2 linked regions of the Homo sapiens genome follow. The protein of the gene in region 1 interacts with the protein of each later gene in a pairwise test. Each region holds a gene or a part of one and is shown on either strand. Other genes may lie near its edges.

Region 1 (16,396 bases):
ACTGCAGACACATGCCACCATGCCCAGCTAATTTCTATTTTTACTTTTTTATGGAGACAGGATCTGGCTATGTTGCCTGGGCTGGTCTTGAACTCTTGGTCTCAAGCAATCCACGTGCCTTGTCGTCTCAAAGTGCTGGGATTAGAGGCATGAGATACTATGCTTGGCCCCTACTTACCTGTTAAGTGGGATCATTACGTATAGCGTACAGCTATGGGAAAAGAAATAAAATGAATTAAAACAAGTGGTGATAAACAGAAGAGGAGCAAGCTAGACAAAGTATATACAACCTTGTTACATCACATTTTAAAAGTCAAATGATAAAATAGTCAATAAGGGCACAATCTATGCCAATAAGGGCATAATGTCCAACTCTGAGATACTGTAAATCTCTAAACAAACAATATAGAAAGAAAACACCTAGAACACAAATTCATGACCATCCATTCAGGAAATGCTGTCTGAAAGAACTTCCACATAAAGAGACTTAAGAGATTCTAAAGAATCGCTCAAATGCTAAATGTGCTATAATAAAGCAGGGCTGGCAAACCATGGCCTGTGGGTCAAATCCATCCCACCATCTGTTTTTGTACAGAATGGTTTTCACAACTGCAAAAAGAGAGTCATATTTCATGACATATGATGATGACATGAAACACAAACATCAGTATACACAAAGTTTTATTGGAACACAGCCACATTCATTTAGACATTGCTTATGGCTGCTTCAGTGCTATAATGGCAGGCTAGACTAGTTGGGACAGAGATATAGCCGCCAAAGCCCAAGATGACACTTACAATCTGGCCCTTTATGAAAAAATTTGCAAACTCCCAATTATAGAGAAAAAATGGCCACATAGACAAGGACTATTCATTCCATGAGACTGTCCACTCTTTTTAAGAAAAGTTTCAAGTCAGAGATTTAAAAAGCTACAAGGCAAATGGGAAACACTTCAACTTCCAATCACAATGGAGTAACAGGAACCAGATTAACCCTCCTATCTTAGACAATTTAAAAACTGGACTAAGCCGGGCACAGTGGCTCATACCTGTAATCCCAGCACTTTGGGAGGCTGAGGCAGGCGGATCACGAGGTCAGGAGTTTGAAACCAGCCTGGCCAACATGGTGAAAACCCGTTTCTACTAAAAATACAAAAATTAGCTGGGCATGGTTGTGCGAGCCTGTAATCCCAGCTACTCAGGAGGCTGAGGCAAGAGAATTGCTTGAACTTGGAAGCCAGAGGTTGCAGTGAGCCAAGATCGCACCACTGCACTCCAGCCTGGGCAACAGAACATGACTTTGTCTCGGAAGAAAAAAAACTGGACTAGTCGGGTGTGGTGGCTCACGCCTGTAATCCCAGCACTTTGGGAGGCCGAGGGGGGCGGATCACCTGAGGTCAGGAGTTCGAGACCAGACTGGCCAACATGATGAAAGCCCATCTCTACTAAAAATACAAAAATTAGCCAGGTGTGGTGGCACATGCCTGTAATCCCAGCTATTCGGGAGGCTGAGGCAGGAGAATTGCTTGAACTCAGAAGGCGGAGGTTGCAGTGAGCTGAGATCGCACCACTGCACTCCAGCTTGGGCAATAGAGCAAGACTGTGTCTCAAAACAAAAACAAAAACAAAAACAAAAACCCTAGACTAAATACATTCAGACATTGTACACCAGGTAGCAAAGGACTACAATCCTGATGGAAGGGAAAGAAGTTGGGTAAGCCTCAACACTGCCCTGGCCATCTGCCTGGAGGCACATTCCAGACTGTAGAGGGGATGGGGGATTCCATGTAGAACACAAATGTTTCCCTGGGCTGAAAGGAGACATTAAAGAACAGGAAGTCTGAAACAACTAGAAGTCACAGGACAAAGTTGTGCTGAGAAGACAGCTACACATAAAAAGAGATCCAAAAACATGCATAGAGTTTATGAGTCTTTGCTGACTATTAAGATACATATGTCTAGGATGAAAACTCCAGGAGGTTGGGCAAAGAATGACCCAGGAACTGTGAATAGAATTGTTCCCTAGAGCTCACACGGGGCTGGGAATTCTTTGAGTTCCCACAAGCCAAATTGATAATTCAGGGCATTCAGCAGACAGACCCCAAAAGGGTCATACTTTAGTAGTGGAGCTAAACTAGCCTGGGAAAAAGGCTACTTGAGACTGTATTAGCTTTAAAAGAGATCTCGAAAGGATCAAACTGAACTGCAGTCAGTAAATTAACTATCAGAACGAAACCCAACAAAGACGCCAACAAAATCTAGATACCCAACAACATAAAATACACAATGTCCTTCATCCAACCAAAACTTACTTGGCATGTGAAAAAACAAAAAAAATGTGACCTATAACTAGAGAAAAATCAGTCAGTAGAAACAAATCCAAAAATTATACAAGCAATAGAATCAGCAAAGACTCAAAACAGCTATTATAACTACATTCAAATATTCAAAGCAGTCTTTCTCAATCACAGTTCTGTAAGAGAATTGAGCCCCACAGAAAGTTATTTGAGGAACTATTTTCTTTATTTTCCCAAGGATGGTACATGGCTGTGCCATTCTAGATGCAAACGTACAATGCAAATTTTCCAGATGCAAATTGGGCCCTAATGCCGTATCTGTTGTGTGTTAATTCAGGGCTCAATGTTCTGCAAAACCAGTTGAGAGGGGCTGGTTAAGAGGAATACATGAACATAATGAGGAGAAAAACAAAATATATATATATATACCCAAACATAATTTCCAGGGGGAAAAAAACCCACAAAATCCAAAATGAAAATTCACTGGATAGGATTCATAGCAGATTAAACAGCAGCAAAAGAAATGGTTATGGGGATCGGGTGTAGTGCCTCAAGCCTGTAATCCAAACACTTTGGGAGGCTGAGGTGGGCAGACAGCTTGAGTCCAGGAGTTTGAGACCAGCTTAGGCAACAGGGCAAGACCTCATCTCTACACAAAGTATAAAAAGTAGCCAGGTGTGGTAGAATGTGCCTCTGTAGCCCCACCTACTCAAGAGGCTTAAGGGGGAGGATGACTTTGAGCCCGAGGCAGGTTGCAGTGAGCCAAGATGGCGCCACTACATGCCAACCTGGGCAACAGATCAAGACCTTGTCTCTACTAAAGAAGGGGAAGAGGGAGGGGAAGAGGAAGAGGGAGGGGAAGGGAACAAGCAGGGAGGGAGGAAGGGAGGGAGAGATGGAGATGGGACTTGAAGATGTAGTAATAAAAACAATCCAGCCAGGCACGGTGGCTCACGCCTGTAATCCTAGCACTTTGGGAGGCCAAGGTGGGTGGCTCACGAGGTCAGGAGTTCAAGACCAGCCTGGCCAAGATGGTGAAACCCCACCTCTACAAAAATTAGCCAGGCATAGTGGCAGGCACCTGTAATCTCAGCTACTTGGGAGGCTGAGGCAGAGAACTGCTTGAACCATGGAGGTGGAGGTTGCAGTGCAGATCACGCCACTGCACTCCAGACTGGGCAGCAGAGCGAGACTGTCTCAAAAAATAATAATAATAATACAAAGTAAAGCATAAAGAGGAAAAAAGGTAAACTGAGATAATAAAAGTTGATGGGTTTCTCATTAAATCTGGATATTATGTAAGCAATCTCGTTATCTGAAGTTAACTAAAACAAATAAACTTTGCCAACTGAAAGTACTACCAAGGATACATGATAGTGCTACAGTAACAAAAGCCACAGGATAAACATGGTATCTTCCTGGGCAGTAATTGTACTAGAAGACATGGAAGATAATTCCATATCAACATAGTTATACTATCAAGTACAGTGCATAATTACACAATTTTTTTTTTTGAGACACAGTCTCAATCTGTCACCCAGGCTGGCGTGCATTGGCACGATCTCAGCTCACTGCAACCTCTGCCTCCCAAATTCAAGTGATTCTCCTGCCTCAGCCTCCCAAATAGCTGGGATTACAGGCACCCGCCACCACACCCAGCTAATTTTTGTATTTTTAGTAGAGATGGGGTTTCATCATGTTGGTCAGGCAGTCTCGAACTCCTAACCTCAGGTGATCCACCTGCCTCAGCCTCCCAAAGTGCTGGGATTACAGGTGTGCGCCACTGCACCCAGACAATTATATTATTTTTACTGGTCTTCAAATAAATGTGTGTGTGGCTTTAGCTGTTTTCAGTTTCATCTTCATGGGGTATCTGTGTAGGTATTCACCTTCCTCTACAGTTGGGTTTCTATATCAGGAGCACTTCATAGAAAAAGTTTAAGAAACACGGACTTAAGTAAATATTCAACAAGTCAAAGAACATCAAACTGTTTCACATCCCCTCCACCTGCTGAATGACCAATGCTGACTTCTAGATTCAAACCCTAAGGCACTGGAGAAAAGGAACAGAGCTACTAAAGTAAGTTTCACTAACACTTGTTCCCTTAAGAAACCACTTAATTAACACAATGAGTAATCAAACATCATCTTGTGATAACAGATCAATTTTAATTCTAGCACCTGAAGCTATACAAGGGTATGCTCTATAAACTTCATGGGACTGTTGTACACACTTGATAAAGTGACAACTGTGCAATACCACTTAGCATCTCAAAATCAGGAACATACTATTGAATTGCTTAAACACAATCCACAGAATTAAAAACAAAATCAGATGCCATCCACAGTTATACTAATTATCCATTAAAAGCTTACACTTAATACTTGAAATAACAATCAATATCTAGCAGGGAATACTGAAAGTGATTTCAGAGTCTCATCCTGTTGTACTCTATTGGGAAGGTTTCTTGAGTAGTTATGTGACTGGCCAAAGATGGGTACAACCAAGACCAGACCAGCAAGTAAAAGTTCTACCACAGTTTCTGTAGTTTCCACTTGTTTTTCTTTGTCAGTTAAAAGTGAACAGTGAGAATTAAATACTTATCTTTACATATACACAAGGTATGCTATGAAAGCATATCTGCTTACAAACATATAAAAATACTTGTTAACTAGTTTGATAAGAAAATAATGTATAAAAGTATATAGCAAAAACATTAATCATCTCTGACCCTGGAAAGATCAATTCCATATTTTATATTACAAACAAAAACAGTTTTAGTTTTTTGAATCCCTTACCCAGAAATACTTGAAAAGGAAGACAGAAGGAAATTATTCCTTTTTACCCTTAGCGTGGCTGTGAAAAAGAGTTAAATTAAAAAATCAAGTACACTGAAATATCTAAGTCCTAAATGAGTCCAAATATTTGACCACATAGAATATTATCATCTCCAAGAGTAGGAGTAGTAACACAGGGTTTTATAAGCAGTTTTTAATCCATAAATACAACAGGCATTTGGTATTTTGGCCATCAGAAAACAAAAGTTGTAGTATCAGTAAAGGTCTGAGATGGTTCACTTTTGTAGATTCAATTCAGTGTATTTAAGGTTAACAAAGGCTGACATTGAAATGTTTAAAGATAGGCAAAAATTCACATTAAAAAAAACCCTATATTTCTATTTAGAGTAACAGTAGGCAGTATGATTCCAAAAGTTAAAAATTATTTCACAACCTGTAGCTTCAGCTTGGCAAACAGCTTAGATTCCAAAACTGATTCATCTCTATTAAAATGTAAGCACTTAAAAAAAGAGCATGTCTGTGTATATAGACATATATTTTAAAGGAATCAGATAATCTTTGAAGCAGCCTTAGTGTTTCCTTTAAATTTGTCTGGAAATGACCATTGTATTAGCTTCACAGAAAGGACTAGCCAGCTTCTTCGTCTAAGGCTAACATGGTGATCATTTGTCTAAGGCTAGAAAGGTACCAACAAGATGTAAACTGAGGAGAGAAAGAGAAGATGAGGGCTTTTCCTGGCCGTTGGTAGCTAAAACTGAAGGGATTCTAGAAAATGACACAATGGCAGCCTTTCTTGTCTTTTTCTTTCCGTGTTGGTTCTGGTGAAGGAGGACATTCCTGCTCTTGAAATTTCCTGTAAGATAAAAAATTCTAAAATATAATTGCCTTCTTGGTAATCTACTATTACAAACACAGGTTATTTTTTGTACAAGTTCACTTTTAAGTGTGTATGCTTTTCAGTGTTAAACTTCAACGAGGGAATTTCTCTCTTTCCTACCCCCACCAAAAAAGGGCACAAACGCGTCAACACCAGCACAAGCAGAGCTATGAAGCTGCTTTAATGGATGAGTCCTGAATCAGACGAGATACTAGACTCAGTAATCTCTAAGTTCCCATCCCAATTTGAAATTCCATGACTCTAAGGTATCCTTAAGAATAAAGATTCATCATTAGAGTGCAATATAAAATTAACCTTATGAGGTATGCAGGTCTTATCTGTGTTCTGCCATTTTTTAAATTCAGTATTAGACAAAGTTAGTTGACCTAGTCTGAGCCCCAGTTTTTTTAGAGGGGAATAATGGAAACCTACCTTTCACAGCTGTTGTGAGGATTAAAGATCTTGTGATGTTAGAATATATCTAATAGCTCCTGGCATTAAAAACAAAACAAACAAAAAACCTCCTCTACTTCTCCCCTCATTCCTGAATTACTGATGGGTAAGGAGAGATCCTAAGAACCAAAACAAAGGACAACATTTCAAAACGGCAGTCATAATTATTTTAAGAAGGCACTGCCTCATCAGTTGCTTAACACTAAAATGGAACTGGAATGGGAAAGGGGGGTAAAATACATATAACATAAAATTTTCCATCTTAATCATTTTTAAGTATACAATTTGATGGTATCAAGTATATGCATGATGTTGTGCAACCATCATCGCCATCCATCTCCAGATCTCTTTTTCATCTTATAAAACCGAGACTCTTACCATTAAAAAAAAATGGGACTGGGATTTTTAACAAACTACTAAAAAAGAAAAAGCTATAACCTTCACTTTTTTTTCCTCCACAGAAAGACAATGCCTTGGCAAGGAGCTAATAAGTAGAAGATCATCGCTCAGGTGTCAATTTACCTTAGATACAAAATAAATACGCAGCCCAGGTGCGGTGGCTCACGCTGTAATCCCAGCACTTTGGGAGGCTGAGGCGGGTGGAACACGAGGTCAGGAGTTCGAGACCAGCCTGGCCAATATGGTGAAACCCCATCTCTACTAAAAATACAAAGATTAGCTGGATGTGGTGGCAGGCGCCTGTAAATCCCAGCTATTCAGGAGGCTGAGGCAGAGAATTGCTTGAACCCAGGAGGCGGAGGTTGTAATGAGCCGAGATCACACCACTGCACTCCAGCCTGGGTGACAAAGAGAAACTCTGTTTCCAAAAAAAAAAAAAAAAAAAAAAAAAAAAAAAGCAGCCCACTTCACATTCCTATCAAACTGTCTAACTAGCAGAGAATCCCAGATCTACAGAGCAGAGTATGAAACAGGGGCCAGGCATCAAGACCCAAAATAATAAATCAAATCCTACTCACTAAAGCAACTTCATCTTTCTCACCCACAAACGTACCTCGTAATTCTATCAGACCTCACCCAACACCTTAAGCTTCCTGGAACCCGTTAACACTTTTTAAACCAAAAGGCCCCCTATGGCATCTAACAGAAAAATTCTCTGTTGTGTGGGACATTATACTTCACACCTTACAGGATTATTTAATCTCTACTACCTGGTTTACTCTTAGCCTGGGATGAGCTGGATAAAAAGAAAGGTAGGAGCACAGGCTCTGGAATCAGAGGTTTGAATTAAAGCCCCAGTTCTGCCATTTAATATGTCTTAATTTGAACAAGCTATTTAACTTCTTTCTCTGTACCCCCATTTTCTCCTCTGAAAGTGAGGATAAAACAGTATTTAGTTTATTGGGCGAGGGTGAGGATTACATGTAATAATACACGTAAAAACGTTTAGCACAGAAGCTGGCAGAGACTACCATGCAAAAGTTAGCTGCTGTCATCACTATCTTCACACCATCACCCCCTTTGGAAGCAGCATTTATTCTTATCAAAATCCTATGTGTACTTTATACTTCATAATTAAATTATATTTTATATTCTAGAAGTGCCTAGAATATGTACTTAAAAATTGTAATGCACCATGTGCATTAATCCCTAGAAAGGAATCACTTCCATATAAAATATCCTTACTAAAAACATTTAATAGTAATTTATTAAAACACACATCTAGAATGTGTTTTGCTTACCTGATAACCCGGACAAGTTCATGGAAAGCTTGATCTACATTCATCCTAATCTTTGCTGATGCCTCCATGTATGTTACCTTAAGCTGCCGTGCTAACTGTTGTCCTTCTTCCTGTGTTACCTGAAATTCCAACAGTTATGTTTATGGTACATTATTAACAACTGGATTTGTTCCATCTAATCCTGGCCACAGATTGTGCTAATAATTCAGCCAAGAGGCCAAGTTGTTTTATCATAAGGTGAAACAACAGACTTAACAGCTCAAGATAAACTAAAGCCCACCTCTGCAGAACAATGCAGAAGAACATATCTGTGATGGAAATACTAGCCTACAACAATATTTCCAAATACAGATCACACAAAAAGTATTAAATACAACAGTAATACATTCTGGGAAGGGAAAGTGTAAGGTGCTATTAAAGTATACAACCCTGTCAGGGAGATGAGCGAAAGCTTCCCTGAGGAAGTGACATTTAAGCCCAGAAGATAACAGAGTATGGAGTTGAGGGGTGGAGGGTGGGGGTGTGAAGAAGTATCCTTGCCAGAGAAAACTGAATGTGTGAGGCCATGAGAGTGAATGGGCTTTCCAAGAACTAAAAGAAGCGTCACATAGCTGGAATACATTAAGCAAAGAGAGAAAATGGCAAGAGGTGAGGATGGAGAAAAGTGTAAGTTTCAGAGGCCATAAGGTCTCTTCATCATTGCATTCCCCAAAACCTGGTACACAGGTGACACTCATCAATATGTGGGGAGAAATGAATTATGAATGCAATCACAGGCCCTCACAATGCCTTATATTTTGGAGATCAAGGAAAGGTGGCATAGCTGATTGATGTATAAAATGGCAGGTCAGAATAAGAAAACATAAACTGAATGTAAGTTCCTACATGTTTTAAATGTAAGGATTTGAATAGTGATGTTTACTAAAAATTATTAAACTCTATTACATTTACATTTATATAGTGGGGCTTAAAATTATATTTCTGAAAACAATACCTTTTATGGCTATTATTACAAAAGTAAACACCTGATGAAAAATTAGAAAAGCCAAATTGGGGGGAAAAAAAAAATCAAAGAAAATTTAAGAACCTATCAACCATAGAGAATCATGTTCTTTTGGTCATTTTTCAATGATACATAGTTTTTAACACTATAAAAATAGGATCATAATTTTTGTATATCTCATACTCTGGAAGCATTCTGAACTCATTTATCTAGGAGTTCTTTTGTAAATTCCACAGGCATTTCTACATAACCATGTCATTTGCTAATAAAGACAATTTTATTTCTTGCTTTTTGATGTGGATATCTTTTATCTCCTTTTCCAGCCTTAGTGCACTACCTAGAACCTCCAGTACAATGACATAAGTGGTGACGGGAATACTCTTGACCTATTTTGGATCTTAGAAACAAAGCTAGTTTTTCAACATTAAGTGTGCTGTCAGTTAGAGAATTTTTTTGTAGATGTCCTTTCTCAGGTTAACAAAGTTCTCCACTACTCCCTTTGCATAAGGCGTTTATCAGGAATGGATGGCGGATTTGCCAAATGTTTTTTCCTGCATCTTACTGAGATGATTATATGATTTCTCCTTTTTAGACTGCTAATATGATGAATTATATTGACTCACTGTCAAATATCAAACCAACAACCCATTGCAGGAATAAACTCTCCTTGAGTGATATATTGCCCTTTTTATATATTGTTAAATTCTATTTAATATTTTATTAAGAATCTTTATATCTGTGTTCATGAGAGATATTGGACTGTGGATTTCTTATGCTTTCCTCTGGTTTGGGTTTCTGAGTGCTATGCTGGCTTCACATAAGTTGCAAAGAATTTTCTCTCCTCTTCAATGTTCTGGAACACTTTGTACAGAATCAGTAGTATTTCTTCCTTAAATGTGTGGTATAATTCACCGGCAAATCTATCTGGGCTTGAAGTTTTCTTTGAGGTACGTTTTTAAAACAAACTCAATTTATTTTGTAGATAAAGTACTACTGATATTATCTTTTTTTTTCCCTTGAGTGAATTTTGGTAGTTTGTGCCTTTCAAGTAATATGTCCATTTCATTTAACTTGCTGAATTTATTGGCATAAAGTTGTTTATAGTATTTATTATCTTTCAAACATCTGAAGGATCTAAAGTGAAGATACCGCTCTCAATCCTGATATTGTGTCTTTTCTCTTTTTTATCTGATCATTCCGGCAAGAGTCTTGTCAATTTGACTGATCTTCCAAAAAGCCAGTTTAGGGTTTTTATTTTTTATTTTTTTTGGTAGAGGTGGGGTCTCACTATGTTACCCAGGATGGTCTTGAACTGCTCTGCTGGGCTCAAGCAATCCTCCTGCCTCAGCCTCCCAAAGTGTTGGCATTACAGGCATAAGCCACTACACTCTGCCAGTTTTTCTTTCCTTTATGGTTTTACTATTTTCCATTTCATTGGTCTTCATTCTCTTATTATTTCCCTTCTACTTACTATGGGTTTTAATTTTCTCTTTTTCTTCTTATTTCTTAAGGAAGAAACTAAAGGTCATTGAATTGAGACCTTTGTTCTAATACAAATATTTAGTGCTACAAATGTCTCTATATATACTTCTTTAGTAGCATGCTATAAATTTTGATGTTGTGTTCTAATTTTCATTCAGTTCATGATACTTTGTAATTTCCCTTTTCATTTTCTTGACCCAAGGGTTAGTTGGAATATGTTAATTTCCCAATATTTGAAGATATCCTAGATACCTCTCTGTTATTAATTTCCAAGTTAATTCTACTGTGGTCAGGAAATTACACACTATCTGACTAAAATCCTTTTAAATTTATTGAGGCTTACTTTATGATCCATTCTTCTTTCAAAAGAAGGTGCATTCTACTGTTGTTGGGTAAAGGGTACACTTAATGTCAATTAGGATATGTTGTGTTCAGTATTGTTGTTCAAGTCATCTGTATCCTTACTGATTTTCTTTCTACCTTCCTATCAGTTATCGAGAGGGGTATTGAAGTCTCTGATTTTAAGTGTGAATTTGTCTATTTTTCCTTGTAGTTCTTAACATCTTGCTTCAAGATTTTTGAAGCTATTAGATCACGAATGTTTGGGACTGTTATGTCCTCTTGAGGAATTAATCTCTTTATCATTATATAACACTCTTCTTTATCTCTGGTAATAGTCTTGGCTCTGAAATCTTTATCTGATATTCATATAGCTACTTTAATTATTTTCATTATTGCTAGCCAGGCAATCATGAAAATAATTAAAGTAGCTATATAAATATCTTACTCCATCCTTTTACTTTAACCTTTGTGTCTTCACATTTAAAGTAGATTTCTTGTAGCATCTTGTTTTTTTATTCAATCTAACACATCTGCCTTTTAATTGAGACATTTGGGCAATTTACATTTAATGTGCTCATGGATACAGTTGAGTCATCTTGCTATTAGTTTCCTATCCATATTATCTATTCTTTGTTCTAGTTGTCTTCTTTCTCTACCTTCTTTTGGGTTAGCTGAGTTGTTTTTATGATTGCATTTTACCTCCTTTGTTGGTTAATTAACTATATATCTGTTATTTCAGTGGCTGCTTCAGAATTTATGGTATACATTTTTAATTCATGACAGTCTAATTCAAATGATACCATACCAATTCAAGTATGGTTTAAGAATCTTACAACAGAGCCAGGTGCAGTGGTGTATGCCTAAAGTCCCAGCTACTTGGGTGGCTGAGGCAAGAGGATCACTTGAGCTCAAGAGTTCAAGGCCAGTCTGGGTAACACAGTGAGAACCCGTCTCTCAAGAAAAAAACAAACTAGTTAACAACAATATTTCTCCCTCCTGCTCTTTTTTGTTATTAACTTTTACTTCATAATGCGTTTATTTTTGCTTTAAATATTCAGTTATGGTAAGAGTAATTTATATTTATCCACATAATTACCATCTCTGGTACTCTGTATTCATTTTCAGATTTCCATTTGGTATCATTTCCCTTCTGCCTAAGGACATCTTTTCACATTTCTTGTAATGCAGATCTGCTGCGGATGAATTATCTCGCTTTTACATGTCTGGGAAAAGTCTTTATTTCATCTTCATTTCTGAAATAAATTTTTAGTAGGTAATGAATCCTAGTTGATAGTTTTTGCTATCAGTACTTAAAAGATTCTGCACCACTATCTTCTGGCTTCACTGTTCAATGAGATGCAATGATGACTCCTGCCATCCTTATCTTTGTTCTTCCATATGTAATGTGCTCTTTTCCCCCCGTCTGGCTATTTTTCAGATTTTTTTCTTTACCACTGATTTTAAGTGATTTCATTATAATGTATCTTATAATTTTCTTCATATTTCTTGTGCTCCGGGTTTGTTGAGCTTCTTGGATGTGTGTATTTTTCATCAAATGTGGAAATTTTCAGCAATGACTTCTGCTGTTAATCCCATCCAGTGCATTTTTCATGTCAGACATTGTAGTTTTACTTCTGAAAGTTTGATTTGGATCTGTTTACACCTTTCATGTCTCTAACATGTTTTCTTGATTGCATAAAATAACGGTCAAAATAACTGTTTTAATGTCTCTGTCCACTAATTCTATTATCTTTGTCATTTCTGGATCTGCTCCTATTAATTATTTGTTTCCTTATTGTGGGTCATATTTTCTTGCTTCTTTATATGTATGGGAATTTCTGAGTAGAAGGCTGGGACTTTTACGTATCAGGTATCAGATATTTTGTATTCCTAAACACATTCCTGAGCTTTCTTCTAGGATGCAGTTATTTGGAAATACATTATCCTTTCAGGTCATGCTCTAGGTTTTGTTACAGGGTACCAGAACAGCATTTAGTGTGGCTAATTTTGCCCCACTACTGGGACAAAACCCTTCTGAGTTATACTATCCAATACTCCAAGAAATATAAGGTTTTCTACTTTGATTGATTAGAATATGAATTATTCCTAGCCCTGTTTGAGCTCAAGGTATTGTTCCTTCTAAACGTTTTAGGTAATTTGTTCTCCCAGTTTAATATTCTATTCCAAAAATTTAGCAGCCTCAATACAGTATCATTAGTTTAGTACACCAATATACATATATCCAACAACTACTTCATAACTGTTTGTGCCCTGTGGCATTCCAACAGGATAACGGGCAGGTTCTACATAGCACTGGTATATCTAAGTTTATCTAACTTTTAAATTTACCTTGTCTCTCTTCAAAATAACGTATGTGCCACAAGGCTATGCATTTGAAATATAAACTGATCAAGTTACCCGAACAATTAACGATAAGGAAGGAAGCCGAGTAAACACAGAAAGCTTCACAGAACCACCAATTTTAGACAGGACAATTTCTGTTTTAGGAAAATTTGACATGTGAAATTCCTTCATATAAAATACCCCTATGCCGTCACAAATTCTGTTTCTTCTTCCTGGGATGTCATCCCTTCTCTCTCAACTCTACACTCTCAAATTCTTCCTCACTAACCTTTCAAGCCCTGAGCAATGAAACTTCCCCCTAAGTGTTGGTGCTGTTTTGGAAGCACCTTCTCAGAGCTCCCATCACACCATCTGGTTACCACTGACAAGTCTCTAACAATACCACAGTAAAATTTTTCGTTGTGTTTTCTTATTCTTTCACCACGTCATCATGTCCTCTGAGGCTAGGAAGTTAAGACAGGTTTGTCTTTGTACATCCAAAGCTTAGAAGCATGCTTAGCAGCTAAAAAAGTAAACACATGTTAAGTAAATGGTGTACAACTAACCAAATAGGTACATCCTTAAGTTAAAATATATATATATACACAAAAAGTAAAAGAAATCTCAATAAACTACTTACTTTGTTGGGGTAAATATGATTGGGGGAAGGAAATACACGTACTTATTAGAATTTTTCCAGTAGCTTTCCTGCTCCATTATTCCTCAAAAAGATACCTTGTCCTACCCATCATGCATAATGTAATTCACATAAACAGGAATAGCAACTCACCTATCCTTATATAGGGTAAAAAAAGTTAGGCCAGGCATGGTGGCTCATGCCTGTAATCCAAACACTTTGGGAGGCCGAGGTGGGTGGATCACCTAAGGTCGGGAGCTCAAGACACGCCTGGCCAACATGGTGAAACCCTATCTCTCCTAAAAATACAAAAAGTAGCCGGGTGTGATGGCACGGGCCTGTAATCCCAGCTACTCGGGAGGCTGAGGCAGGAGAATTGCTTGAACCCGGGAGGTGGAGGTTGCACTGAGCCAAGATTGCGCCACTGTACTCTAGCCTGGTTGACAGAGCAAGACTCTGTCTCAAAAAAAAAAAAAAAAAAAGAAGAAGAAAAAAACGAAATGTTAATTAATTCATGGTCTACATGATAAAACAATCCTGCTGCTAGGGTTATGTGCTTCACTTGTTTTTGTTTTGTTTAGTTTGGTTTTGGGACAGGGTCTCACTCTGTCACCCAGGTTGGAGTGCAGTGGCATGGCCACAGCTCACTGAAGACTCAACCTCCCAGTCTCAGGTGACCTTCCCACATCAGCCTCTTGAGTAGTTGGGACTACAGGCACGTGCCACCATGCCTAATTTTTTTTTATTTTTAGTAGAGGCAGGGTCCTGCCACGTTGTCCAGGCTGGTCTTGAACTTCTGGGCTCAAGGGATCTGCCTGCCTTGGCCTCCCAAAGTGCTGGGATCACAGGTGTTTGCCACCATGCCCAGCCATTTATTTGTTTTTAAAGCATGGTTTCACATCACTGTCTTCCAGGAAACAAAGCCAACAAATTTATACATACATTTCTGGTGAAGAAATCTCTAACCACATGCTTGTGAGCTGACACAGCATACTTTTAACTAAGTAGAAATAGCATTGCCATCACCAAAGCAAACAATAAAAGACAAAAAGGACAACATACCGGAACAGAGCCATAGCACTGTGGAAGTTAGAAATCAAAAGAAAACTGAAAGTTACAAAAGTAAGTACTTCCTAGAGGTTCCTCAACCCAGATAATTTCATAAAGATACCAAATAATATTAAGCCTCATCTCCTGGATATTCTGATTTGGTAGATTTTAGCACTTCCCAGACATGTTTTGTTTTAAATAACCAGGGCAAATCTGATGCAACAAATTCACAGAACTACATTTGGAAGCTTCCAGTAAGACTCAGTTCAAAAACACAGGTAGCAGCAGCAGTTCACAATAACATGTATGAGCTCATCTAGTACTACATATTTCCAAATAGAATAAACTACATTTCAGTGCTCAGAGTTATGTCAAGTTAATGAAGTTTACAGAAGCAAAACTTGTTTTCACAAACATCTATTATGTAAAAAGAATCATCACATTAATACAACGTCTTAACTCACTGGCACCCAGATTCATCCACCCAACAAATACTTATTTAGTGCATACCTCTGTTCTATATGCTAACGATAAAGCCTGAACAAAATTGACCTGTCAAAACCGAGAAACCCTCATAGTACCTACACCTACATTCACCATCTAAACCCTTTTAGACGCACATAAGGCACAGATAACGCCACATGTGGTAAGATCCTCTACTATTTGAGGAGGGGTTCTTTTTCCTAGGAGGCTGTAGGGGGCACACTGGTCAAAAGTACTGACAGATGGGAGTCTGGATTGATATACTTAGCTATCTATTATTTTAAGTATAATAAGTTATTTTCTCAAATTAATAGTAACGATTAATAATTAAGCAACTAAAAGGAGGGGAAAAAGAGGGAACAACCAAGGTAAGCCAGGAGAAAGATGGTAAAGACAAAAAAGCAAAGACAGTTGATCTCTAGACAGGGCTGAGTTGAGGACAAGGAACTTGAAATCAGATATATCATGAAATTCCACTGTCTAAGCCAACATACTGTGCTATTTAATTTCAGATTCAAGTGTTGTTATATTTACCTACTTTCATATTTTAGCAAAGTTAAGCAAATCATTTACCTATGTTTTCTTCCTACACCTTTAGCAGAATAAACAAAATGACTGGCATATCTTAAGGGACCAGATGGCTGGTAATACTAAACAACCACTCAAATTCTACAGATATCTTTTTATCTCACGTAAACCTCAGTGACTATTCTGTCTACTGCTGCATCATCACTGCCTAGAAAAGGTGTTCAATAAATACTGGATGAATGGATGGAAGGATGAAAGAAGCAACCCAGTCCACAGATACAGAGGCCATAAGCAAGCAAGCAAAGCCTCTTCTGGATGATATCCCTGAACCCTGGTGGGGTTCAGAATCTCAGGAGCCAGTGGTAGAAATGGCCAGTGCTGACCCACAAATTCAAAGAACAA
Region 2 (9,399 bases), on another chromosome or scaffold:
AATGGGGTGGGGCCAGGCGATGGCCGCGCAGTTCCCGAGAGGAGCCTAGGGACAACTTGGTAAGGACAGAACTGGACGGCAGAGTTGGGAAAGGCAGGTTTAGAGGGCCGGGGCTGGAAGGTGGAATGGGGTTGGTTTAGAAGTGGCTAGGTGAGGGCGGATGGGGCAGCCAGTGAAGCGCGACAGGAGGGCTGAGGGAAGCCCTGGGTGGAAAAGAGTGTGTGGGGCGGGGGCGGGGGGGTGGGGGGAGGGGACGGGAGGGGGAGGGGACGGGAGAGGGAGTAGGGGACAGGGCATGGGAGAGGGAGGGTTTCCAGGGCAAGTTGCAGGAGCTATTTGTGGATGGGGAGGAACAATAACTTCAAGCGGGCAGGGAGTGGGGCACACACCTATAATCCCTGCGCTTCGAGAGACCAAGGCAGAAGGCCAGGAATTGGAGACCAGCCTGGACAACACAGCAAGATTCTCTCTAATAAAAATAAAAATTAAAAAACTAGCTGTGCGTGATGATGCCCAGCAGTGGTCCCAGCTACTCAGGAGGCTGGGGCAGAGGGACCGCTTGAGTCTAGGACTTGGAGGCTGCAGTGAGCTATGATTGTGCCACTGCACCCCAGCCTGGGCAACAAAACAAGACCTGTTTCTAAAAAAAACAAACCAAAACAATAACTCCAAGAAGCCGGGAGACAGAGGAATCACATGAAAGAATGGTGCTACAGGCGGGGCGAGGTGGCTCACGCCTGTAATCCCAGCACTTTGGGAGGCCGAGGCAAGTGGATCATCAGGTCAGGAGTTCAAGACCAACCTGGCCAAGACGGTGAAACACCGTCTCTACTAAAAATACGAAAAAACTAGCTGGGCTTGGTGGCGGGTGCCTGTAATCCCAGATACTTGGGAGGCTGAGGCAGAGAATTGCTTGAACCCAGGAGGCGGAGGTTGCAGTGAGCCAAGATCACGCCACTGAACTCCAGCCTAGGTGACAGAGTGAGATTCTGTCTCAAAAAAAAAAAAAAAAAAGTGGTGCTAGGGGCTGGGCACGGTGGTTCACGCCTGTAATCCTAGCCCTTTGGGAGACTTTGGGAGGCCAAGGGGGGCAGATTACTTGAGGTCAGGAGTTCGAGACCAGTCTGACCAACATGGTGAAACCCTATCTCTACAAAAATACAAAAATTAGCTGGGCTTGGTGGTGTGCGCCTGTAGTTTCAGCTACTTGGAGGCTGAGGAAGGAGGATTGCTTGAACCCAGGAGGCAGAAGTTGAAGTGACCCAAGATCGTGCCACTGCACTCCAGCCTGGGCAACAGAGTGAGACTCTGTCTCAAAAAAAAAAACAAAAAAAAAAAGAGTGGTGCTAGTGATGAATGTGACTAGAGAAGGGGTGCTGTGAGGACCACTCCTGCTCTCTCATGGCCACCTCTCCCCTCCTGCAGGCTCCCAGCCCCATTGCCAATACCTTCCTCCACTATCGAACCAGCAAGGTGAGGGTGCTGAGGGCAGCGCGCCTGGAGCGGCTGGTGGGAGAGTTGGTGTTTGGAGACCGTGAGCAGGACCCCAGCTTCATGCCCGCCTTCCTGGCCACCTACCGGACCTTTGTACCCACTGCCTGCCTGCTGGGCTTTCTGCTGCCACCAATGCCACCGCCCCCACCTCCCGGGTCAGTAGCGAACCATAACCTCCGTATTCTCCACCCTAGAACCCCAACTGGGCACCCCCCTCCACCTCCTCAGGTGTGGAACCTGGAAACACCTCCCAGACCCAGAGCCCTCTTCCTAAGCCCCCTCTAGGTTCCCCCTTCTTCACCTGCTGGGGGGCCTCTTCCCAGGGTAGAGATCAAGAAGACAGCGGTACAAGATCTGAGCTTCAACAAGAACCTGAGGTGGGTCCTTCATCCAGATAGGGGAGTGCGGGGAGGGAAATCCAAGAGGTCAAAGGTTAGCAGTCGGACTGGGGTTTTGAAAATTGCAGGTTGGGTAATAAGAGACTGGGAGTCAGGTGGGGCGTGGTGGCTCATGCCTGTAATCCCAACACTTTGGGAGGCCGAGGCAGGTGGATCACTGGAGGTCAGGAGTTAGAGACCATCCTGGCCAATATGGCGAAACCCTGTCTCTACTAAAAATACAACAACAACAAAAAAAGGTAGCTGGGTGTGGTGGCGCATGCCTGTAGTCCCAGCTACTCGGGAGGCTGAGGTTGCAGTGAGTCAAGATCAGGCCATTGCACTGCAGCCTTGGTGACACAGTAAGACTCTATCTCAAAAAAAAAAAAAAAAAAAAGGTACCAGGAGTCATATTCTATGTCCCCCACTCTGGACCCAGCTCTGAGACCCTGCCTCTCTGGCCAGGGCTGTGGTGTCAGTGCTGGGCTCCTGGCTGCAGGACCACCCTCAGGATTTCCGAGACCACCCTGCCCATTCGGACCTGGGCAGTGTCCGAACCTTTCTGGGCTGGGCGGCCCCAGGGAGTGCTGAGGCTCAAAAAGCAGAGAAGCTTCTGGAAGATTTTTTGGAGGAGGCTGAGCGAGAGCAGGAAGAGGAGCCGCCTCAGGTGTGGACAGGTGAGGGGTTTTCAGATCCAGTCGTGTTCTGAGAAGGCCTTTCCTGTCTGCTTCTTCCCACACAGGCTTTCTCTCCCCTCTCAGAGCTACAAAACTTAAGCAAGATTTTAAACTCTAAGCCTCAATTTCTTCATCTTTACAATGGGGATAATAATTCTTTGTCAGCCGGGCGTGGTGGCTCACGCCTGTATCCCAGCAGTTTGGGAGGCCAAGGATGGTGTATCACCTGAGGTCAGGAGTTTGAGACCAGTCTGACAAACATGGAGAAACCCCATCCCTACTAAAAATACAAAATTAGCCGGGCGTGGTGGGGCATGTCTATAATCCCAGCTATTCGGGAGGCTGAGGCAGGAGAATCGTTTGAACCCGGGAGGCGGAGGTTGCGGTGAGTCGAGATCGTGCCATTGCACTCTCGCCTGGACAACCAGAGCGAAACTCCGTCTAAAAAAAAAAACAAATTCTTTGTCTGAAGTATTAGCATGTGTCTAATACTTTTCCCTCCTTGGTGCCGTTGGGTCAGGATGCTCTGTGTTTCTAGCTACAAACCATTGCCTTGATACTTGTCTTTATTTTCTTTTTTTTGAGTCAGGGTCTTGCTCCGTTGCTCAGGCTGGAGTGCAGTGTCTCCATCATGGCTCAGTGCAGGCTCAACATCCTGGACTCAGGTGATCCTCCCGCCTGGGTCTCCAAAACTGCTGGCATTACAGGCGCGAGCCACTATACCTAGCCTGTAAAATTTTTCTTATTTTTGAATTTCTTTTTAAATTTAATTTAATTTAATTTTATTTTTTTATCTATTTTTTTTTTTAGACAGAGTCTCGCACTGTTACCCAGGCTGGAGTGCAGTGGCACAATCTTGGCTCACTGCAACCTCCACCTCCTGGGCTCAAGCCATTCTCCTGTCTCAGCCTCCTGAGTAGCTGGGACCACAGGCGCATGTCACCACGCCCGGCTAATTTTTTTGTAAAGGTGAGGTTGTGCCATGTTGCCCAGGCTGGTCTCAAACTCCTGAACTCAAGTGATCTGCCTGCCTTGGCCTCCCAAAATGCTGGGATTACAGCCATAAGCCATTGTGCATGCGTAGCCTCCTTACTTGATTATTGGCTTTTGCTCATCTCATAGGCTGTGAGTGCATGAGAGGAGGACCTGTTGTTCTTGCTCCCAGCTCTGTCCCCAGGGGCAGGAACAACACAGATTAGTTTGCTGAATAATTGCATCCTGCTTAGGAAGTATCATCTTTCACCCATCTGTATTTGATCTGATCCACATCACAAAAGCATCTCTATCCCTAATCCCCATCGCTTAATCTCCAGATTATAGTGGCCACCTTCCTGTCCAATTTACAAAGTAGCAGCCACTTCTCTATCCCTGGTGACAAAGTCTCAGTTATTTATATATATATAAAGGTATATATATATATATATATATATATATATATATATATATGAAGGTGTATATATATATATATATATGAAGGTATATATATATATGTATATATATGAAGGTATATATATATAAAGGTATATATATATAAAGGTATATATATAAAGGTATATATATATATAAAGGTATATATAAAGGTATATATATATAAAGGTATATATATATATATGAAGGTATATATATATATGTATATATATGAAGGTATATATATATAAAGGTATATATATATAAAGGTATATATATAAAGGTATATATATATATAAAGGTATATATATATAAAGGTATATATATATATAAAGGTATATATATATAGGTGTATATATATATATATATATATATATATATATATATATATATATGATTTCTCCAGCTGATTCCAAGTCATTAGAGCTCCATAGTTCACTGTGGTATCCACTAGCCCCTGTCGCTATTTAAATTAATTAAAATTGGCTGGGCGCGGCGGCTCATGCCTATAATCCCAGCACTTTGGGAGGCCGACGGGGGCGGATCCCAAGGTTCGGAGATCGAGACCATCCTGGCTAACATGGTGAAACCCCGTCTCTACTAAAAATACAAAAAAATATTAGCCGGGCGTGGTGGCGAGCGCCTGTAGTCCCAGCTACTCGGGAGGCTGAGGCAGGAGAATGGCGCGAACCTGGGAGGCGGAGCTTGCAGTGAGCTGAGATCAAGCCACTGAACTCCAGCCTGGGTGACAGAGCGAGACTCTGCCTAAAAAAAAAAAACCAAAAAACAAAATTATAATAATAATTAATTAATTAATTAAAATTAAATAAAATTCAGGTCTTTTCTTTTTAGAGATGGGGTCTTGCCATGTTGCCCAGGCTGGTCTCGAACTCCTGGGCTTAAGCAATCCTCCAGCATCAACCTCTCAGAGTGCTGGGATTGTAAGTGTGAGCTACTGTGCCTGACCCTGCCCTTTTTTTTTTTTTTTTTTTTTTGAGACGGAGCCTCGCTCTGTCACCCAGGCTGGAGTGCAGTGGCGCCATCTCGGCACACTGCAACCTCCTCCTCCCAGGTTCAAAAGATTCTCCTGCCTTAGCCTCCCAAGTAGCTGGGATTATAGGCACCTGCCACCACACCCAGCTAATTTTGTATTTTTATTAGAGACAGCGTTTCACTATGTTGGTCAGTCTGGTCTTGAACTCCTGACCTCAGGTGATCCACCCACCTCGGTCTCCCAAAGTGCTGGGATTACAGGCGTGAGCTACCATGCCTGGCCCGCTTTTTTTTTTTTTTTTTTTCTTTTTCAAAATCCAGTCAAGCAAAGGCAAAAATTCAGGTCTTCAATCCCACTACCCACATTTTGAGTGCTCAGCCACCACACTGGACATAGCAGATAGATAATTTTTCCACCATTGCAGAGAATTATATGGAAAGTGCTGCCCTAGTTTCTTTGAGGTCAGAGGAGAAAATTAACATTTGTTTAAGACCTTCTATGTGCTAGGCCCTGGGACACACTTTATTTCATTTTATTTTATTTTATTTATTTTTACTTTTATTTTATTTTGAGACAGAGTCTCGCTCTGTCGCCTAGGCTGGAGTGCAATGGCGCGATCTTGGCTTACTGCAACCTCCACCTCCTGGGTTCAAGTGATTCTCCTGCCTCAGCCTCCTGAGTAGCTGGTACTACAGGCGCCCGCCACCAGGCCCAGCTAATTTTTTGTAGTTTTAGTAGAGACGGGGTTTCACCGTGCTAGCCAAGATGGTCTCGATCTCCTGATCTCGTGATCCGCTTGCCTCGGTCTCCCAAAGTGCTGGGATTACAGGCGTGAGCCACCGCACCCGACTATGAATTTTATTTTTAGATACAGGGTCTTGCTCTGTTGCCCAGGCTGGACTCGAACTCCTGGGCTCAAGTGAGCCTCCTACCTCAGCCTCCTGAGTAGCTAAGACTACACTTGCACCATGTAGTTTAGAAGAAAGTAGATGACCACCATGCTCATCTATTTTATTTTAACAACTTTATTTTGGGTTCACTTTTTGCTATGGAAAATTTCAGACATATACAAAAGTAGAGAGAATAGTATGAAGAACATTCAGACATCCATCACCTATCATCAACGATGATCAATTTCACAAAAAAATATTTTCAGGATGATTTTAAAACAAATCCCGGGCTTATGTCAATTCATACATAAATGTTTTGGGTACACATGTCTGACAACAGGCTTACTTTTTTTTTTTTTTTTTTTGAGACGGAGTTTCGCTCTTGTTGCCCAGGCTGGAGTGCAATGGCAGGATCTCAGCTCACCTCAACCTCTGCCTCCTGGGTTCAAGTGATTCTCCTGCCTCAGCCTCCCGAGTAGCTGGGATTACAGGCGTGCACCACCACACCCGGCTAATTTTCTATTTTTAGTAGAGAGGGGGGTTTCTCCATGTTTGTCAGGCTGGTCTCGAACTCCTGACCTCAGGTGATCCGCCCACCTTGGCCTCCCAAAGTGTTGGTATTACAGGCGTGAGCCATGGCGCCCGGCCCTTTTATTTTTATTTTTTAATAACCTTCATGTTCATACTTAAAAAAAAATCAGAAATATTTGATATAAAAAAAATCCAATCCAGGCCAGATGCAGAGGCTCCTGCTGGCGATCCCAGCATTTTGGGAGGCCAAGGCAGGTGGATGGCTTGAGCCCAGGAGATTGAGACTAGCCTGGGCAACATGTTGAAACTTTGTGTCTACAAATAATTAGCTGGGCATGGTGGTGACTGCCTATAGTCCCAGCTGCTTGGGAGGCTGAGGCAAGAGGATCATTTTAGCCTGGGATGGTCAAGGCTGCAGTGAGCCGTGATTATGCCACTGTACTCCAGCCTAGGTGACAGAGCGAGACCCTGCCTCAAAAACAGAAAAAATACCCAGTCTATATTCAAATATTCAAATCCCCTGTTTGTGCCTGAACCTTTTTTTGGACACTGGGTTTTCCTATTTTGCCTGGGCTGGGCTTGAACTCCTGACCCTCCCACCTCAGCCTCCTGAGTAGCTGGGACCACAGGTGCCCACCATGGCACCCAGCCCTAAATTTTCTTTTGACAGTTGTTTCTGGCCAGGTGTTGTGGCACATGCCTATAGTCCCAGCTACTTAGGATGCTGAGATGGGAGGATCTCTTGACTCCGGGAAATCAAAGCTGCCGTGAGCTGTGAGCATGCCCCTGCACTCCAGGCGATAGAGCTGGGGGAAGGAGGAATAGTTGTTTCTTCAAATTGAAATCCAAAGATCTACTCAAGGTATTTGGTTGTTTGCTTCTCTTTTTTTTTTTTTTTTTTTTTTTGAGATGGAGTCTCACTCTGTTGTCCAGGCTGGAGGGTAGTGGCGTGATCTTGGCTCACTGCAACCTCCGCCTCCTGGGTTCAAGCGATTCTCCTGGCTCAGCCTCCTGAGTAGCTGAGTTTACAGGTGCCCACCAACACGCCCAGCTAATTTTTGTATTTTTAGTAGTGAGGGGGTTTCACCATGTTGGCCAGGCTGGTCTTGAACTCCTAACCTTTAGTGATCTGCCCACATCGGCCTCCCGAAGTGTCGGGATTACAGACATGAGTCACCACGCCCTACCGGTCGTTTGTTCCTAAGTCTCTTTTATTCTGTAACAGATCCCCCTTGCCTCTTGTTTGAAGCCATTAGAGGGCAAAAAAAATGGGTCATTTTTCCTGAGGTATGTCTCACATTCTTTTCGACTTACCTCATGGTTTCATGCAGCATGTTTCTCTATCCCCATAATTGCTGTAAGATTTAAAGGTTTGATTAGATGTAGGGCATTTTTTTTTCCAGGGCCCACTTTTTTTTGGGGTGGGGGGAGGAGAGACAGTTTCTTGCTCTGTCACCCAGGCTGGAGTGCTATGGCATGATCACAGCTCACTGCAGCCTTGACCTCCTGGGCTCAAGAGATCCTCCCTCCTAAGCCTCTTGAGTAGGTGGGACAGCAGGTGTGCATCAGGATGCGCAACTTTAAAAATTTTTTTATGTAGACATGGGGTCTCACTACGCCGCCCAGGCTGGTCTCAAACTCCTGGTCTCAAGCAATCCTCCTACCTCAACCTCCAAAAGTGCTGGGACTATAGGTGTGCCCAGCCCAGTACCCACTTCTAAAAACTAATATTTTGCAATGCCACCTGTCCTAATTCAAGATGAAAGAGGTAATTACACAGATTTACAAAGATTATTTTAAAATAATAGTATTGGGGCAGGGTGCTATGGCTCATGCCTGTAATCCCAGCACGTTGGGAAGCCGAGGCAGGAGGATCACCTGAGGTCAGGAGTTCGAGACCAGTCCGGCCAACATGGTGAAACCCCATCTCTACTAAAAAAAATAAAAAATAAAATAAAATAAAATAAAAAATAAATAAATAATAAAAAAATATATATATATTTAAATTAGCTGGCTGGGCATAGTGGCACCTCCTGTAGTCCCAGTTGCTCAGGAGGCTGAGGCAGGAGAATTGCTTGAACCCTGGAGGCAGAGGTTGCAGTGAGCCGAGATCGAGCCACTGCACTCCAGCCTGGGCGACAGAGCAAGACTCCATCACAAAATAAAAAAATAAAATAAAATAATAGTATGATGCCATAACTAGTACAAAGGAGAAGGAAAGTGAGAGTAACTTACACAGCAATAAACCATGTTTTCAATGGGTAATGCTTGGGTATGCCCCACTAGGACACATGATGAGGTTGTCCCGTGTCTTTGCCTGTCCTAGCGTCACAGTAGAGTGTCACGGTGCTGTTGTACTGACAGCAACAAGCACCAACGAACGCACAGGAGGGCACTGGTGAGGCAAAGACAGCAACATAGGTTCTGGGGACATCATTTTCCAAACTTGTGAACAACATTTGCAATTTGCAAACAAAACAAAGCCCAGACTTTCGTGGTCCTTGCATTCTTGGAGCCAAAAAAATTTGTGTTTATGAACAAAATAGTCAGGTTCTAGGTGCATATTATTGCAAACATGTTTTTCTTTTCTTTTTGTTTTTGTTTGTTTGTTTGTTTTGTTTTGTTTTGTTTTTTGAGATGGAGTCTCGCTCTGTCGCCCAGGCTGGAGTGCAGTGGCATGATCTCGGCTTACTGCAAGCTCCGCCTCGCCGGTTCACGCCATTCTCCTGCCTCAGCCTCCTGGGTAGCTGGGACTACAGGCGCCCGCCACCACGCCTGGCTAATTTTTTCTATTTTTTAGTAGAGACGGGGTTTCACCATGTTAGCCAGGATGGTCTCGATCTCCTGACCTCGTGATCTACCCGCCTTGGCCTCCCAAAGTGCTGGGATTACAGGCGTGAGCCACTGCCCCCGGCCTTCTTTTCTTTTCTTTTTTTTTTTTTTTTGAGACAAAGTCTCTGTCACCCAGGCTAGAGTGCCGTGGCGTGGACCTGGCTCACTGCAACCTCCACCTTCTAGGTTGAGGTGAT

Evidence for each region.
Region 2: the proteins of RRAS2 (region 1) and RGL3 interact in binary tests that used the Homo sapiens proteins (3 or more experiments, as listed by UniProt).

What each region holds. Positions count from the first base shown.
Region 1 is NC_000011.10:14,273,476-14,289,871, forward strand, and holds the end of RRAS2 (ras-related protein R-Ras2), read right to left. Parts: intron 8,246-16,396; coding exon 8,127-8,245; intron 7,087-8,126; coding exon of another isoform or gene 6,949-7,086; intron 5,950-6,948; coding exon 5,862-5,949; 3' UTR 4,447-5,861; downstream 1-4,446. UniProt on the Homo sapiens protein: GTP-binding protein with GTPase activity, involved in the regulation of MAPK signaling pathway and thereby controlling multiple cellular processes. Regulates craniofacial development.
Region 2 is NC_000019.10:11,409,086-11,418,484, reverse strand, and holds part of RGL3 (ral guanine nucleotide dissociation stimulator-like 3), read left to right. Parts: intron 1-1,425; coding exon 1,426-1,649; intron 1,650-1,817; coding exon 1,818-1,871; intron 1,872-2,336; coding exon 2,337-2,548; intron 2,549-9,399.